2 separate regions of the Homo sapiens genome follow, and region 1 is linked to region 2. The links come from fine-mapping of genetic effects on gene expression. A gene starts in region 2. The other region holds a variant in brackets. All regions are shown on one strand. Distances are from middle to middle.

The links. PIP is the estimated chance that this variant, and not a neighbour inherited with it, causes the effect.
Region 1: its variant is the best candidate, but not a certain one, in a credible set for the expression of GPRASP1 in cerebral cortex (GTEx, PIP 0.73).

The regions. Positions count from the first base shown.
Region 1 is chrX:102,908,320-102,911,233 of GRCh38, forward strand. All of the region lies in intron 10 of LINC00630 (long intergenic non-protein coding RNA 630), which reads left to right. Among named protein-coding and RNA genes, the nearest start is that of RAB40AL, 27 kb to the right of the region's middle. The variant C/T (reference allele first, on the strand shown) is at 1,737.
Region 2 is chrX:102,649,760-102,652,673 of GRCh38, forward strand. It overlaps GPRASP1 (G protein-coupled receptor associated sorting protein 1), which reads left to right and starts at 1,724. Exons shown (of 6, transcript NM_001184727.2): 1 at 1,724-1,836; 2 at 1,928-1,974; 3 at 2,416-2,506. The region is part of intron 4 of ARMCX5-GPRASP2 (ARMCX5-GPRASP2 readthrough); the gene reads left to right.

The DNA of each region.
Region 1 (2,914 bases), 260 kb after region 2:
AGTAATGAGATTGAATCAGTAATAAAAATTTTCCAACAGAGAAAAGCCCAGACCTGGATGGTTTCTCTGATGAATTCTACCAAACCTTCAAAGGAGAACTAACAAAAGTTATATTCAAACTACTGAAAAAAAATTGAAGAGGAGAGAATTCTCCCTAACTCATTTTATGAGGGCAGCATTATTATGATATTAAAAACCAGACAAGGACTCAACAACAACAAAAAACTACAGGCCAATAACCCTGATGAAAATAGATGCAAAAGTTCTCAACAAAATACTAGCAACCTGAATCCAACAGCACATCAAAAAGATAATATGCCGTGATCAAGTGGGATTTATACCAGGGATGCAAAGATGGTTCAACATATGCAAATCAACAAACATAATACATTACATCAACAGAATGAAGGACAAAAACCATATGATTATCTCAACCAATCCATAAAAAGCATTTGATAAAATTCATCATCCCTTCATGATAAAAACTCTCAAGAAACTAGGCATCAAAAGAACGTAACTCAAAATAATAAAAACCATATATGATAAACTCAGGGCTAACATCATAATGAATGGGGAAAAGCTGAAACCATTTCATCTAAGAACTGGAACAAGACAAGGGTCTTGTTTTTTCACCTTCATCACTACTATTCAACATAGTACTGGAAGACCTAGCCAGAGCAATCAGACAAGAGAAATAACAGATATCCAAGTTGGATATCTTTACATTTGTTCCTCTTTGCAAATGATATAATTTTATATCTAGAAAAACCTAATGACTCCATCAAAACCCTCCCAAATTTGATAAATACAATATAGTTTTAGGATAGAACATCAATATACAAAAATCAGTAGTGTTTGTATGCACCAATGACGAAATAGCTGATGATGAAATAGTGGAGAAAGAAATTAAAAAGGCATGCCTACTTGAAATAGCTACCAAAAAAAAAACCTAGGAATAAATTTAACCAAGTAGGTGAAAGACCTCTACAAGGAAAACTACACAACACTGATGAAAGAAATTGAAGAGGACACAAGCAAATGGAAAGATATCCTATGCTCATGGCCTGGAAGAATTAATATAGTTAAAATGACCATACTGTCAAAGGTAATCTGCAGATTCAATGCAATCCTTATCAAAGTACCAATGACATTTTTTGCAGAAATAGAAAAAACAATCCTAAAATTGATATGCAACCACAAAGGAACCCGGATAACCAAACCAATCCAGACCAAAAAGAACAAAGCTGGAGGCATCACACTACTTGACTTCAAAATATATTACAAGGCTATGGTAATCAAAACAGCATGGTATTGGTATGAAAACAGACACAAAGACCAATGGAACAGAATAGAGAACGCAGAAATAAATCCACATGTTTACAGACAAAACTGATTTTCAACAAAGGCACCAAGAACGTACGTTGGAGAAAGGACATCCTCCTCAATAAATGGTATTGGGAAAATTGGATATGCATATGCAGAAGAATGAAACTGCATCTCTGTCTCTCATCATATACAGACATCAACTCAAGATCAATTAAAGACTTAAATGTAAGATCTGAAACTATAAAAGTACTAGACAAAAACCTGGGGGAAACACTTTAGTACATTGGTCTAGGCAAATATTTTATGGCTAAGACCTTAAAAGCACAGACAACAAAACCGAAAATAGACAAATGACCAATATGTGTGTCCACCACAGAGTCCAGGGCCTTTCCTCTGCAACACCTTGTCAG[C/T]GTCAGTACTTTCTTCATTCCTCTGTAGCCTTTCTCACCTCCCTATACTTGGGGAGTCTAAATGGCACTACTTTATGAGTGTCTGTAGAGCAATACTTATCAAGGCCTACATAGGCACACACGCTTTGTGCTAGCATTTCCTTTTATATGTTTATCTTCAGGACTTAGTGAAGAATGTTGATTAAAATCTGGTTACAAGTACTGCCATCCTGATATTTCCCTTTTTTCACTTTTGGGCTTGAATTTAGAAAGGGAGACGAAATGAGATGCAAAGACACAAGCCAGAAGGAAGTAAAGGGAAATGTGGTTGTCAGCACACACATACACTCACACTCTCTCTCTCACACACACACACTCACTCCTACATCAACCAGGTTCTGTTATCACAATACTACAATTCTCTCAACATAGTTGTTGGGCTCCAAGGGGACCCATTCAGCTCACCAGAGCAAATAGCCATGGGAACTCTGCCCTGGATTACAACCACTACCAGTGCACAGACTCTGAAAAGATGCTATCCATGTCGTGTAGATAATAGGGAATATTGGAACACTCTGAATAATATGGGGTTGTGAAAATTGATTATGTCACATCCACAGTATGAAATTTCAGAAGAGAGCAAAAATGAGTTATATTGAAACAATGATGAGAGATGATTTTTTTTGCCTATCAGATTAGTAAAGATTCACATTATTTCTAATATGAGCAGAAAGGAACTTTCACACTGGAATATTAGTAGTATAATGCTTTTATTAAAAGTATTTTGATTTCAGATAAATGCATGGGGGCAAGATGGCAGATAGGAGGCAGGACCAGCTTGCAGCTCCTGCTGAGATGGACAGAGCAGCATGTGGAGACTCGTACTGTAAACCTTTGCTCCAAGAAGTACTGCAGGAACATACCAGGAAAGCTGAGAGAATCCACAGACCCTTTGAAGAAACTGGATCACTGTTGCAGGCCCCCTGAGATGCCGAAAAACTGTGAGTCTGCTTGCTTTGTCAGTGGGGAAGCTGGTGGTCTGGGACAAGTTCTCAGCCCTGGTCACTGGTTGCCCTGAAATAGACTCGGTGCTGTTGTAGGGCACAGTGGGAATGACACCAGCCTTTAGGGCTGCAGGCTGCATGGGAGCAGGGTGAGGCCCATGACCGCTGACTTTCCCCCACTTGCTGGCAAACTGT
Region 2 (2,914 bases):
AGGTCTGGTGCTGCTACCCTGTAACCAGTTACCATACATGGAATGGCTTAAAATAATACCAATTTATTATTATCTTACAGTCCTGGAAGGTTGGAAATCTTCAAAGGGCTTCACCACACTAAAATCAAGATGTTGCCAGAGGAGCTATCCCTCTGGCATTTCTAGGGAAGAATCTGTTTCTTTGTCTTTTCCAGGTTCTGGAGACAGCCTGTATTTCTTGGATCTTGGCTTCCTTCCATCTTCAAAGCCAACGATGACCAGTGTAGACTTTCTATGCTGCTTCAATCTGACATGGAGTCCCTGCCTTCCACATCTAAAGTACCCTTGCAATTACATTGGCCAAGATAACCCAGAATAATCTTAAATTAAACTCAGCTGAATAGCAATCTTAATGATCCTTTGTCAGGTAATATAAAATGGTACATGTTCTGGAGAACAGGACATGGACATCTTTAGGGGACCGTTACCTGCCAAACACAATGAGGGTAGTGTCTAAATGAGTTTTCAAATGGACAACAGTAACAACATCAACTTGGTGTTTAACCACATTGCTCTGTCTGTCCCATGCAGGAAGCAGGGAAAGGAGGGGCTCAAGAGTAGAGGACGGATGTGGGGGTGAAAGAAGAGGATTCAAATGAGCCAGGTTGCTTTGTCTCGGGGAGGGGGGTGCACGGTGGGATCCTCTCCTGAGAATGACTGCTGAAACAATAGGTAGTTGTGGCAGGTGGCGGAGATCCAAGCTGGTTTGATACCAGCCACATTTCCACACTGCCAAATATCATGGCAAGAGAAGACTTGACAGGGAACCGAAGAGAAGCCAGGACCATCCCTACCTGGCGGCATCAAAGAGAGAGGACTGTTATGACCTCCTGCGGGTCCTGACAGGGAAAGGTCCTCTTTTGGGGGCAACTGTGGGGACGGTGCAATGCCAACGTGAGCCACCATTTGAAATGAGAAACAGCGGTGTGGCAGAAAGAAATGAGTCTGGTGCAGACCAGTGGTTGGTTTCCTAGGGTTAGAGGTCTAGGTCTACCTTCTTTTAGAAGAGGGGCAGTGGTGAGTCCTTGATGGGAGCCCCCTGCCCCGGAGTTCACTTAAGAGCAGGTGTACCTTCCTCCCCTGCGTGGCTCCACGAAGCTGGGAAAGAAACGCACAGGACGACCACCCTAGAACCCCGGGCCTGTCTGGACTGAAATCGCCTCTCCCCTCCCACACTGCAGTGCTGACACCCCCTCTCCCATTAACATCCAGGAAGGAGGGTGAGCAGACTAGGGAGGGGGAGAGGGCAAACACCCAGCAGTCCTTATAGGGGGGCGGTTGGGGCGGGGGTGCAGACACACCAAGGGACGGTTTGGTATCCATCCGCTGCTCCCTCCAGCGCGGCTCTTCGCGACCTCGCGATCCTGTCCTCCGCCCGGCCCCGCAGCCGCCCGCCGGTGCCATATATTATAGCAGCGCCAGAAATGTGGTGGTCGTCGCCACGTTAGGGTCCGCGGGGTCCTCCTGAGGCAGCCTGGTGCCAACCCGCAGGCCCCGGCTGGGGCTCGTCCTGGCCCCGCCCACCTCTGGGTCGGAACTATGGTGGTTCTGTGAGGGGGGGCGTCCTGCACTTTCGCGCCGTATCCCTCCGCCCCCCTTCCCGACACCCTCGCGGAGAGCGGTTCTTGCCGCATCCTGCGCAGCCCCTGCCCAGTTTGGTGCAGAGGCGTGGGGGGCGGGACTCGTCTTTGCCATTCGGATCGCTGGGAAAGCGGTGGGAATCCAACTGAAGAGCAGCCAGAGGAGAGCTGAAGAGAGGAGGGGGAGGCCGATGACCTGGGCTCTGGGCCTCTGAAGGCAAGTAGGGGTGCGTGAGGTGGGGGGCCGTGGTGTGGGGGTGGTCCGCCAGGGTGGACCGGCTGGCAACCTGCCCCCCGGACCCTGACAGCCTGGCAACGAGGAGACGATCCGTTCGGAGCCGGGCGCTAGAGAGAGGTGCGCAGTGCCCGAGATCCCTGGCTATGGGGAGGCGGTGACTGGTGCGGGCCAGGCCGGACCAAGGGCTGAGGGGCTGGCTCCAGAGGCACCGTCAGATCGTCTGGAGGAGAACCGCGCTGACCGCTTCCCAGCCAGCTTTGCAGGCGCCCGCGCGCAGCCCTCGACGGTTTCGGTACCGAGAGACGGCTGTGGGGGAGGCTCCTGCGGGAGAAATGGCCAAACGGGAGCCGTGTTGGGGGGCGCCCGGGAGGCAGTTGGGGGGCGCCTGGGGGGGCCCTCGTGGGCCAGCGTCCCAGCTCTGTGCCTAGCCCGTGGGAGGTGGGTCGCGTTCGCTGCTCCGGGCCCTGATTCCGGAAAGGGGCCTGTGGGGCCCCGTGTCCTGGGTGCTGTCCCTTCCCACAGACTCCAGGTTGATGTCAAAGTCTGTCTGCGCGGTAGGTCTGGCGTATTCTGACAGGACACAGTGAGCATCTGTAGAGGAGAGGCTTGAAATAAAGGAGGAGCACGAATATTCCCTGGATTTCTGGAGGTGTGTGGGGATGTGGGGTGGGTGCCAAACACTGGAGAACCGAATCGGGGTGGGGGACTGCGACCAGAGCAGGTCAGGCATCCAGGAGCACCTCTTAATCTTCCCCTCTCTAATGGTGTTCCAGGCGCTTCCCCCACCTTCCATCCCCATCTGCCTCCCCCACCGTCCTAAACTGGGGGCTTGAAAGGGTGAGCTTTGGAGGTAGGGGTGATGAGGGAGACATACTGACAAGTACCAATTCACGACCTGTTTTCTAGAATATGTGGCGCCCTTCCCCCATTTTCTGCTGCGCAGAGCAAGGGGATGTGGCGCACCTAGTGGTGAATCCTCAGAATTGGAGAAGGGAGTAATGAGAAGAGTATGACGTCAAGAGAAGGAGTTGTTATCTCTAGAACCTTGAAGCAGGGC